3 linked regions of the Homo sapiens genome follow. The protein of the gene in region 1 purifies or fractionates together with the protein of each later gene. This does not show direct contact. Each region holds a gene or a part of one and is shown in the gene's direction. Other genes may lie near its edges.

Region 1 (4,425 bases):
CTGATAAGGGATACACACAATATAAACAGTAAATTGTGACATCAGAAACATAAATTATCAGGAGAGATACAATAAAAATGTAGAATCATATTTTGCAACCAAAGTTAAGTGGTTATCAGCTTTAAACAGCCGGTTATAACAACATATGTTTTGTGTAACCCTTATAGTAATCACAAAGCAAAAACTGACAGTAGATACACAAAGGATAAGAAGAAAGGAATCAAAGCATTCTAATATAGAAAATAATCTAATCACAAAGGAAGATAGCAAAAGAGGAAGAAAGGAACAAAGGATGTATAAAATAACCAGAAAAGAATGAACAAAATGGCAAAAGTAAATCCTTACCTATCAATACTTACTTTGAATGTAAATGGATTCAGTTTGCCAATTGAAGGAGTGGCTGAATTGATTTTTTTAAATGACTCAACTGTATTTTGCTTACAAGAGACTCATTTCAGTTTTAAGGAAACACATAGGCTGAAAGTTAAGTGATGGAAAAAGATGTTCCATGGAAAAAGAAACCAGAAAAGAGCAGGAACAGCTTTTCTTACAACAGAAAAAATAGACTTTAGGTAAAAAACCACAAAGTGAGACAAAGAAGGTCATTATATAATAATAAAGGGATCAATTAATTGAGAGATCAGCATGTCCATCACCTCAAATATTTATTATTTATTTGTGATGAGGTCATTTAAAAATCTTTCTTTTAGCTCTTTACATTATTATTAACTATAGATACTGGAGTACTATTCAGCCTTTAAAAAACAGAAAATTCTGTTATTTGCAATCATATGAATGAACCTAGAAGACACTATGTGAAGTGAAATAAAGCAGGCACAGAGAGACACATACCATATGATCTCACTTAGATGTGGAATCTAAAAAAATTGAACTCATAGACGTAGAGATTAGCATGGTTGTTACCAGAGCCTCGAGGGAGGGTGGATGGGGAAAGGGGAGACATTGGTCAATGGGTACAAACTTTCGGTTAGATAGGAGGAATAAGTTCTGGTGTTCTGTGGGCACAGCATGGTGACTACAGTTAAAAATAATTATTTATTTCTTTTTTTACAATTATACTTTAAGTGCTGGGGTACATGTGCAGAACGTGCAGGTTTGTTACATAGGTATACACGTGCCTCACATAGGTATACACGTGCTTATTTCTTATCTAATTGTTTATAAGTTTTTTCAAGTTTGCTTGCTTGCTTGGTTGATTCATTCATTCAAATTCGTTTCACACAAAATGCCAACTGGCTCTAATTTGTCTTTATTTCTTAATGGGAAGAAAGGCCCACACAGACATGAGCACTGCTGGCAAGTCTCCCACGCTTACACAGAGTATCCAGCTCAGATAAGTGATACATGTTGTCCTTCTTCCTGCCTGACATCAGGTATCTCCCATCCCTTTTAGTTCACTGCACAGAACCCTGACGCATTTCCAAAACTAATAAAGGCGGGCTACTGCTCTGCTACAGTGATCTCTGTTTGGTCACCTGCAACACAGCCCTTCATTCTGGTGGAACATGTCAGTCATGAAGCCCTGTTTAATGACCATTGCCATCCTTATGATCCTGGCTCAAAAGACTCCAGGTAACTCAGGCCTCTCTCAAAGGTTCTGGCGTCTTGCATGTGGTACTGGTATCTTGGTGACCTCTGCAGTGACTCCTACTCACATATAGTGGGCAACACCTAAAGCCTTTTCTGGTCTCAGGTGGGTCACAGATGTTATTCCCAAGGTTAATTTCATGTAAAGATCTCCCCTGGTTCTGCTCTGCCAAGACAAATTGAAGAGGTTGTTGATCCTGGCATAGTGGACAGTCTAAGCATGGAACATTTTAGGTAGTGCTGTCATTGGGATGGGGGCTTAATTCATGAGTTAGGTGTGAGAGACTGTGTGCAAGTTGAGGAGCTATAGGAGGGGTATAGCAGTTTGGAGTTGGGTAGGGAGTTGAGGTGGGGAGGTTGTAAGACCTTAGAGATAGGGTAATATCCAAAAAGTGAGTGGGGATGAGCATGGGGTGAATAATTGTATTTATAGGTTGGGCTGAATAGATGTTTTGGTGCATTCTAGAGAGGAAATGGTATTTTTTCTTGAATGGAGCTGGGGTAGAGTTGGTGCAACTGGGAGTTGGGGTATAGAGAGGTTTGTAGCTGGGTTGTGTTTTAGATTGATGCTGTGAATGGGGTTGGGTGGCTTGGATAGTGTTATGTTTGTATGTTTTGCAGTTGGGCTTTTGGTGGTTATTAGAAGAGGTAGGGCTTGAGTTGTAGTTAGTGTTTGCCTAAAGTGGGTATCTTATTCAGTCATGGGTATGTGAGGTTTATCTGGGCAGGGATTGACTTAGCCTGGGTTTGGGGGTGATTAAGCTTGAGTAAGACAGTTGAATTCATCACAGCAGGGTTGTGGCTATTGAAATAAGGAGAATATTGACTCCTTCTCAGATATATGATTTGCAAATATTTTCTCCCATTCCATAGGTTGTTTCTTCATTTTGTAGACTGTTTCCTTTGCTGTGCAGAAACTTTCTAGATTGCTGCAATCCCCTTGTTTATTTTTGCTTTTGTTGCCTGTGCTTTGGTGTCATATCCAGAAAATCCTTCCCAAGGCCAACGTCAAGAAGCTTTTTCTCTATGTTTTCTCCTAGGAGTTTTATAGTTTCAGGTCTTAGATTTAAGTCTTTAATCCATTTTGAATTTGTTTTTGTGTATGGTGTAAGATAAATATCCAATTTTATTATTTTGCATCTAGATACCTAGTTTTCCCAATACATTTATTGAAGAGACTATACTGTCATGAATATGTCCTAGAAATCTACTGTACAACACAGTTCCTATAGTTAACGGTACTGTGTTGGATATTTCAAAAATTACCAAGGGAGTGGATTTTATGTTAAGTGTTCTTAAAATAAGATTTGATGTACCAAAAATAATAAATAAGATGGTGGGAGAAAACTTTTAGGCGTGGATAGGTTTATGGCATAGATTGTGATGATGGTTTCATGGGTGTAATGTATGCTTATCTCCAAACTCATCAAAATGTATAAATTAAATATGTATAGCTTTTTGTGTGCCAATTGTACTTCAACAAAGTGATTTAAATAAGGAAATGGGGAGAATAAACACTGGATGAAAAATATCCAGTATTATTTTCAAATTCTGAAGAAAGTTTCTTAAGTGTGATTTTCAAGGGCACTGAAGAACAATAGATGTGACTGTAGATGGCTGAGATAGAGGAAGTCAGGAGACTGGAATGTTTGGAATTGTCTCCTGTCAAATCTTGGCATGTACAGAGAGATATGGGAGCAGTCTCAGCCCACCCTATAGAAAACCAAGATTGTTCTTCCTTCCTCGATAGTGAGTTCAGATTCATCTGATCTAGAGGTTTCTCCTCCTCTTCCTCTTTCTTCTCTGTTTTTCTTCTTCTTTTCCTCCTCTCTTTTCTCATATTCCTTCTATTTCACATTCTCATGCCTCCTTATTTCTCAGCTTCTTTTATTCCTTTGCTCAAGAGACATTTGTTCTCATGCTCAGTAAAGCTCAGTTCTCATTTCTAATGGTGGTAGAAAACACAAGTGGGTTTGCAAGAAACACAAACAACAACAAAAATGAAGACAGCACTCTATGCTTCAAGAGTTGTACATAGTGTAGCTTCCTTAATAATTATTGAGTACTTTTACTTGGCAGAATTTATGAGCAGGAACAGTTCTGGACAACATTTTCTATTAGGACAATCCAAACAAATTTTTCCTTTTATCCTCCCAAATGTATGCATATGAAATTAAACTGTTTGAAAGCCAAGACTTTGTCTTTTAAATCTACACATTTCTGATGTTGAGCTGAGTGTGTTGAATAGAGTAGGCTTTAGCAAATACTTATTGAATGAATGAATATGTAATGAATCATGGCTAATAAACATATATGAGTAGAAATAACCTTAGAGATTGGATGGGAGAGGATCATGTTTGGTTGCACAGCAGGCAGAGAAATAATATATCACATTGATTTTGGCTTGGGATGGAATTTTTAAAAAGGTCCAGAGGATACCTTTTGTTTTTTGACTTAAGACAGTTTAATTTGCTTTCAATACACTTCCAATGTGGAAAAATGAGCTGGGCAATGTCTATAGCTGAATGTGAGAAGGCTAGGCAGAATCGTGGCTTTCACTGCAAACAGGAGCCCATTAGTATTTTCTGGGGAACTCTTGCAAAGCACCCTTGCTCTGGCCTCTCCTTAGATATACTGAATCAGAAATTCTAGAGACTTAGTATGAATATACGTAAAAATATGCCAGGTTATTATGAAGTATGACATCTTATTAACCTCTTTTTTACACAAACACAGTGGAGACTTTCTAATTTGGTGCAAAGTCTCCCATTCCCATTTTCTGACATGGAGAGACTGGGTCCAGAGGGTTAAAATATA
Region 2 (4,407 bases), on another chromosome or scaffold:
AGAAAATAATTGTTGGGCTTTTGTTTTATCACAGTTTCTTGCTGTGGAGTGGGGTGTGATGCCATTAATAGGATTTCAAACTTAAGTGAGAGAAAAAGAAATAGAATCAAATAAGCTTTAAAGAAGCTGATTCATCTCACCCAACACCTTTTCTACTGATATAGCCTCCTACATATTAGGAAAGGCAAGGGTTGGAGTTGTTTAAAGAGTTGAAAACGGGAAAGGAAATAGAGGAGGGAAGTTTTATTGAGAAGAATTCCACCTGTCTAAACAAGGAAAATAGTATCCTATGGGCAAACTTTAGCATCCCTGAAAGAGCCCTGGATCTTCACTGATGGCTGCAGAGGGGACACCCTGATAAATAGATGACATCGACAGAGTGTCTCAGGAAGAAACAAGTGCATGGATTCATAAAAAGGCCAGATGGGACGGTGGGCTGCTATGAAATATTATAGCACACCTGTGGAATACGGTAGTGTAGCTGGGAGGGACACATTGGTCTGGGCCAGGGAATCACACTGCATTGTCCTCACACATTGCCTTTAACACATTGCCACTCTCCACTCGGAAAATAGGTCGAGCAGGTCTAGGGACTGTGGTAGGGCAGTTACAACAATTTGATCGTATATCTTTTCACTATCTGAAAAACAGAAGTTGTTATTGAGCAAAGATTTAGTTCTGGGGTAATACTAAATGCAACATCTAGATGTTTGAAAAATAAAGTTTCCAAAAAACATCTGCATACAAATTAGGGCTTATGAAATATAGGCAAGCTTAAGTGTTATCTTCCACCATTGTTGGGAAGGAATAAATCTTGAACATTTAGGAGTTCAACGTCTATTAGTAGAATGATTTTTTTAGGAGGTGATCCCTAAACTCCTTTTTATGTTCTAAGTACTGCATGGTTGAGGGCTGGACTGTCTAGTGCTGAAAGAAAGTGTGTATTGAACATAGAGCCTGATACACAGTTAGGCGCTTAATGGTTAATTGATGCTGGTTGAATACAGTTGTATAGTTGGACGCACCAAGTTTGTTATTAAGGGAGGACCACCATAAAACTCGAACACCAGTTAGAATGTCTTGGGTAGAAATTCACAGCAGTCTGGAGCCACGTTCCCCTGCTGAGAAGGGAACTGCCAACCCGTGTAAAGTCTGGTCTAGTGAGTGTTCCCGGGAGTGTGCAGGTGTTATTCCTGAAAATAAGGCCGGCCACTACCAGACAGAGAAGCTGCCCATTTTAAGGTGTCAGATCAACGCCAGCGACGCTTACCTCGGGGCCTCCTCTCGCCCCACCTTTGCCTTTCTGCCAAATCTCTCCTTGCTCCCGGCCGAAGGGATTCCCACCCCCAGCTGCCTCCTCCGAGCCCCGCGGAGCAGCGGACTCCTCCCCTGGAAACTCCTCCGGGGCTGGGGGAGGCTTTGGCGCATGCTCCGTACCTAGGGCAGGTTTTTGCTGCGGGTAGCAGGGCTCCTGTCACACCGGCTGGCGGGTTGTGGCGGTGCCAGCCTGTGTGTGCGAGTGTGTCTGCGTGCCTGCGCCTGGGCGGACAGCCCGGAGCGGCAGTGCGACTCGCCGGGAGAGGCGTCTCCGCAGAGGCGCCTCGCCCGCTGCCGCTGCGCTGCGGGGGCCGCTCTGCAAACTTGCGGCGAGCGCCGTCAGCCCTCGCGGCTCCACAGCCCCGCGACCTGCCGGCAAAGGCGCCGGGCGCGCGTGCCGGGCGCGGTGCCCGCGGCCGGCCGGGGCGGCGGGAGCGGGCCGCGCCTTCGCCCTTGGCCGGCGCCCTGGCGAGCCTCATGCAGCCCCGGCGCTCGCGGCCGCAGCTACCCGGCTGCCCGGCTGCGCGCGGCAGGTCCAGGACCCGAACCCCGCTCCCCAGCGCCTGAGCGCCTGCAAGCCGCCGGCGGGATGCCGCGCGTCGCCTGAGAGAGCCGCGCCGGGGCGGGAGCAGGGAGCGGGCCGGCCCGGGCGCACCCGGGAGCGCAGGGCGCCCCACGCCGCAGCCGCAGCCGAGCGCGCCGGCGCCCGCCTCCCCCGCCCGGCTCGCAGGCCCCGGCTCCTCAAGCCCCGAGGGCCGCGGGGCCGCCAGCCAGCCACACGCCTCGGCGTCAGGGGCATGGAGGAACGGCGGGCTCCGAGCCGCGCCCCGGAGTCCGCGAAACTTCCGAGCGGGCGCCCGTCCGCCCTGCCGCCGCCGCCGCCGCCGCTTCGCCTGCCGGCCTGAGAGCGGGACCATGGATGAAAGGTTCAACAAGTGGCTGCTGACGCCGGTGCTCACTCTCCTCTTCGTGGTCATCATGTACCAGTACGTGTCCCCCTCCTGCACCAGCTCCTGCACCAACTTCGGGGAGCAGCCCCGCGCGGGGGAGGCCGGCCCGCCCGCCGTCCCGGGTCCCGCCCGCCGGGCTCAGGCGCCGCCGGAGGAGTGGGAGCGGCGGCCCCAGTTGCCCCCGCCGCCCCGGGGGCCCCCCGAGGGACCTCGGGGGGCCGCGGCGCCGGAGGAGGAGGACGAGGAGCCCGGAGACCCCCGGGAGGGGGAGGAAGAGGAGGAGGAAGACGAGCCGGACCCCGAGGCCCCGGAAAACGGCTCCCTGCCCCGATTCGTGCCGCGCTTCAACTTCAGCCTGAAGGACCTGACCCGCTTCGTGGATTTCAACATCAAAGGGCGCGACGTGATCGTGTTCCTCCACATCCAGAAGACGGGGGGCACCACTTTCGGCCGGCACCTGGTGAAGAACATCCGGCTGGAGCAGCCTTGTAGCTGCAAAGCGGGTCAGAAGAAGTGCACCTGCCACCGGCCTGGCAAGAAGGAGACGTGGCTCTTCTCCCGCTTCTCCACCGGCTGGAGCTGCGGGCTGCACGCCGACTGGACGGAGCTCACCAACTGCGTGCCGGCCATCATGGAGAAGAAGGACTGTCCCCGCAACCACAGCCACACCAGGTACTGTCGCCCGCTGGGTCTCTGTTCTTCCCCCCCACCCCCCATCCCTCTTCCTCAGTCCTGACCCAGAGCGACCCCGCGCTCCCTGCCCCTGCCGATGGTTTCCTGGCGTCTTCAGCGGTTGGCGCCGTGGCTTTGGGGAGGGATGAGAAACCTCCGGATAGTGCCTAGGTCCTGAACTCGTTCTTCCCCCAGCCCCCACCGCTTCCCGCCACCCCTCTGCCTTCACCCTCTAAGATGTGCGGAGCCACCGTGTGGATCCTGCCTGTTGCCTAGCACGGCCTGGCCTCCCTCCCAGTGGACGCTGGAAAAACGCCCTGAAATGGGGAGCGGATCGCGGTCTGGGTTAGACCAGCCTTGTAGAATTGTGAACTTAAGTTTTGGGAGTGTAAACCCAAACCCAGGAAAAGGAAGGGGGAGTAGAGAGGCAAGGCACGAGTTTTCCAGGCGTGGTGAAGCTGGAGACGAGTATAATCCCTCCCTAAGTGGCTTTTGGATGGCAGCTCAGGAAACAGTCAATCCTCTTGATGCCACTTTGAAGACACACGTGCAAATTCCTGTTCTACCGCGATAGATAACTCTAATTCTGGAGATGGTCTTTGTTGCCCAGCAGTGCCAGGATTTGGACTCACCTGTCCTCAGAAAGATTTCCATGCTCTTCCTAGGCCATTACATCAACTTATTCCAAAAGTATGTTAAATGCCTACAGGGTGCCTGACAGTGTGCTAGGTGTTAAGTGAGTATAAAGATAACATAACATCCCTTGTTTTCAGGATGGAATGACATTCTTGATCCCCTGCCTCCCAGCCTTAAAAAACAGTAATACAGTGGAGAATTAAGAAAGTTAAAAATCTTAATAGCCAATGAAACTGCTTACATTATTAACATGCTTTGAGAGAGACATGGGCTTAATAATTTGGTTGAAGGTCCTTTCTGCCCATTGCAATTTGAAGATTAATCTGACATGCTTGCTAAAGGACGAAAATATTAAAAGCTTGGAACACTAGTTCATTGAAGTTTTTATCTTAAAGGTTTCAAACAATTTGGTATGAGGAAATAGGAATTTAAAAGCTCAAGCTGATTATGTTGATATCCCAGATAGCTTTTGCATTTGACGTTATAGAAAAGCTTCATTTACTGGAAGCTACCCAGATTCTGGAATTCACCACCACTGAAGCATCTAATTCTACTTCATTTCTCCAAGAATGAGCAAAATTTCATTATGAGATTTTTTACTCTGGCAATTCTTCAGATACTTTCCTTCCTCCCTGCTCCTTTTCCTGTTTCCTGCACATTAGTTAGAATAAGAAACTGGATTTGGAATGAGGGAATTAGGCTCTTCTCTTAGTATATTTTACGGATCCTTTGCTTTTAAATATTTTTAATAGTGTATTACTTTGGATCTTGCCACTCTCTTTTAGCTTAAAACAGTTTTTCAATTAAGTATTACTTCCAAACCTCCTAACAC
Region 3 (3,500 bases), on another chromosome or scaffold:
CCGCGGGGTCAGGGTGGGCGCTCAAGCAGCTGGCAGGCGCGGTTGCGAGCAGGCCCCTCGCCCCACCCAGGCCAGACTCGCACCCTGCGCTTCGTGTCCAACGTGACGGAGGCAGACCGCATCCTGCTACGCTGGGAGCGCTATGAGCCACTGGAGGCCCGCGACCTGCTCAGCTTCATCGTGTACTACAAGGAGTCGTGAGTGCCGGGGGCGGGGCCGGAGCGGGGGCGGGACCGGACGAGGCCAATTTCTTCGGGACCACAGGCAGGTGAGGGCGGAGCTCAGCGAGGCTATGAAGACCCAGGAAGCCAGGACCCGCAAGTTGTACTCCGTGGTAGGGCCCAGGTCTGGCTCTCTTCCCTCACCTTCTTCATGCCTTCATGCCTCGGTTTCCCCTCACCAAGTGAAATGGAGAAGACAGGGCTTCTGAGAGCCCAGGAGAGCCATCCTGCTGGGAAGGCTTGGATCATTAAACTTCACTTCATTATGCTAATGTTCTACACTGACCACACGCTCCTGCCCCAGCAGCGGTTTGGGGAGCGCCCACTAATTTGGCCAGTTTTATGAGCAGCTCTGCCAGCATTTCATTTAAGCCTTAGGAAGGGAGGGAGCAGGGGCCGCCAGGGACCACAGCTGCTCTTTTCTTTGGAGAGAGTCAACTGACCCTAACAATGAGGATAGTGGTTAGACCACAGGAAAGACTTCTCCAAAAACACGGTTAGGAATCAAAAGGAGATATCCTTAGAGGAGGGAAGTGGATTTCAGATGCAGGCTGGGAAGGCAGGAGTAAGGAGTTCATGCTCTCTCTCTCTGGTAGATATTATAGAAGATGGAGGCCACCTGGCTTAGAAGCATTTCCTGTGAATTAAAATGGAGAGGACTTAGCTGACCACTGGCTCAGGGTCTGGCTTGGGAGGAGAAAGGAAGGAAGTCAGTTGTAGGAGACCCACTCAAATGGCCGAGACCCTCCTAGGTCTCAGTGGTAGGTGAAGGTCTCCAGCGTGGGCAGCTGGAGAGTTTGTTAAATACAGATTCCTGGGCCTCGCCCCCCACTGATTCTGATTCAGTTAATCCTGAGCAGGGCCCAAGAATTCACATGTCTAATAAGCTCCTAGGAGATGCTGAAGCTGCTGGTTTGTGGACTGCACTCTAAGGAGCCCTGGCATGACTACAGTGTGAATCTCCCCCAGCTCCCCGGCTTGTGCACTTCACAATCTGCACAACTATACACAGCTGTCTCTGGGCTCAAAGAGCAGAGAACCTTGGGAACCCTTCAACAAGCTTCCCTAACATCACTGCCCTGCAGCGTGGCTGCAGCTATGCTCCCTCAGAGACACACACTGCAGATCCTGCCCAATCCTGACTCCAAACAGACCCAGACCTGCTCAGTGTGTCATGCCTCACAGGACACCTGCTCCCATGACACCCACTATGAGCCCCCACCCCCCCAACCTGCTCCTGGACTATCCTGCTTATAGGTCCCAACAAAGGCAGGCACTTCCCGCTGGGCCACAAGTTCCCCCACTGCCACCCAATTTGACCTCCCTCAAGTTTTGTCCCTGGCTCAGCATGAATTCCATCATCCCCTTCCCAGTCCAAAGAAACAAATTATCATGAACATCAATGTGATGTTCCATTGTCTCCCATGGTCTGTTCTGCTATCTCCCATGGGGGGCCCACTGTCATCTCCCCCAGGGAGCCCTCTTCTACCCCTAAAGCCAGTGATGCTTCCCCAAGCCCTGCCCCGAAACTGGCCTTCAGGCAGCCAGCACTAGTTGCCTCTGGCCCCTTAATTTCCCTGTGGCAGTGGGTCTTGGCCTTTTAGGGTCATGGACATGTTTGAGAAGCTGTTGAAGCTAGGAACACTCTCTCTAGAAAAACACACATGCACAAAACTTTGCTATAGTTTGGGAGGCTCATAAACCTCCAAAGTCAATTCAAGGGCCTAAGTGAAGACACTGGGAAGGGAGCAGTCTCCTGTTCCTCGTTCCAGGCAATTAGACTTAGGGGAATTAGGATAACCTTATTGCTTGCTGTTTCTAGGAGAGGGGACTCTTTCACACACACTTTCTTGTTTTATTTATTCAATGCAAGATTTTTTCAATATTCATTGAAACTAGAACTTGATATTCCCTGCTAAGGATGAGGAGCTATATCATTACAAATTTCACTGACACAGATATCACAGTCCCTCCCCTCCTCCGCCCCCCCTTGCCAAGGTCTAACAGGTGGCTGGAGTCATGGCTTTGCCCTCATGCATACTGGAAGGACAATGACAGTCCTGGGGTGATTCAGAGCGGGGGTGCCAGAACTTGAGGGTGGGGTTGAATGACCCCTCAGCTCTGGGGATGGGTGTTCAGCCCATTCCAGAACGCCACAGAGCACGTGGGTCCAGATGCTTGTGGAACCCAGAGCTGGAACCTGCTGGATGTGGAGCTGCCCCTAAGCCGCACCCAGGAGCCAGGGGTGACCCTAGCCTCCCTCAAGCCTTGGACACAGTACGCAGTGTTTGTGCGGGCCATCACGCTAACCACTGAGGAGGACAGCCCTCATCAAGGAGCCCAGAGTCCCATCGTCTACCTCCGAACGCTGCCTGCAGGTAGGCATTTGGAGGGTGCAAGAGTCAGTCAGACGCCTGCATCCATGAGAACAGGGGAGCACAGGCACCAGAAATAGAGAAGCCGGGGCACTGAACACCTGGCCCACAGAGGCTGGAAGGCCAGATGCTTGAGTCCTAGAAAGAAGGGGGAGCATTTGCCTAGGTCCTTGCGGGGCTGGGATTGGGACAGTCCGGGGTCAATAGCTGAGGGAACTGAAGGGCCTATGGCAGAGAAGGGGAGGACAGAAACAAAACACTGAGTTCTAGGAAGCCAGGGGTGAGGATCACCTATTCTTTGGGAGAACAAGGCTGTTGGACCCCAGAAAGGAGGGCTCATTACTAGATAGTATTCAGGAGGAAGACCCACACCCCTGAGTTGCATCCTTCTCGCACTCCTAGCTCCCACGGTGCCCCAAGACGTCATCTCCACGTCCAACTCCTCCTCCCACCTCCTGGTGCGCTGGAAGCCACCGACCCAGCGCAATGGGAACCTCACCTACTACCTGGTGCTGTGGCAGCGGCTGGCAGAGGACGGCGACCTCTACCTCAATGACTACTGCCACCGCGGTGCGCAGGGACGACGCGCAGGCCGGCCGCGGGGCGGGTGGGGAAGGGGAGATGGAGGCGCAGGGCCCCGGCAGGTGGGGGGGATCAGAGGCGGGTAGACCGCCTGTCTTACTAGTGTCTTCCCGCTGCGGCGCCAGGCTTGCGGCTGCCCACCAGCAACAACGATCCGCGCTTCGACGGCGAAGACGGGGATCCTGAGGCCGAGATGGAGTCCGACTGCTGCCCTTGCCAGCACCCACCTCCTGGTCAGGTTCTGCCCCCGCTGGAGGCGCAAGAGGCCTCGTTCCAGAAGAAGTTTGAAAACTTTCTACACAACGCGATCACCATCCCCATG

Evidence for each region.
Region 2: the proteins of DEFB116 (region 1) and HS6ST3 purify together in Homo sapiens (affinity purification with mass spectrometry; one large-scale study listed by BioGRID and IntAct). This does not show direct contact.
Region 3: the proteins of DEFB116 (region 1) and INSRR purify together in Homo sapiens (affinity purification with mass spectrometry; one large-scale study listed by BioGRID and IntAct). This does not show direct contact.

Annotation. Positions count from the first base shown.
Region 1 is NC_000020.11:31,305,687-31,310,111, reverse strand, and holds the start of DEFB116 (beta-defensin 116 precursor), read left to right. Parts: upstream 1-1,526; coding exon 1,527-1,593; intron 1,594-4,425. UniProt on the Homo sapiens protein: Has antibacterial activity.
Region 2 is NC_000013.11:96,088,631-96,093,037, forward strand, and holds the start of HS6ST3 (heparan-sulfate 6-O-sulfotransferase 3), read left to right. Parts: upstream 1-1,476; 5' UTR 1,477-2,232; coding exon 2,233-2,939; intron 2,940-4,407. UniProt on the Homo sapiens protein: 6-O-sulfation enzyme which catalyzes the transfer of sulfate from 3'-phosphoadenosine 5'-phosphosulfate (PAPS) to position 6 of the N-sulfoglucosamine residue (GlcNS) of heparan sulfate.
Region 3 is NC_000001.11:156,845,618-156,849,117, reverse strand, and holds part of INSRR (insulin receptor-related protein precursor), read left to right. Parts: intron 1-70; coding exon 71-197; intron 198-2,360; coding exon 2,361-2,599; intron 2,600-2,998; coding exon 2,999-3,166; intron 3,167-3,303; coding exon 3,304-3,499; intron 3,500-3,500. UniProt on the Homo sapiens protein: Receptor with tyrosine-protein kinase activity. Functions as a pH sensing receptor which is activated by increased extracellular pH. Activates an intracellular signaling pathway that involves IRS1 and AKT1/PKB.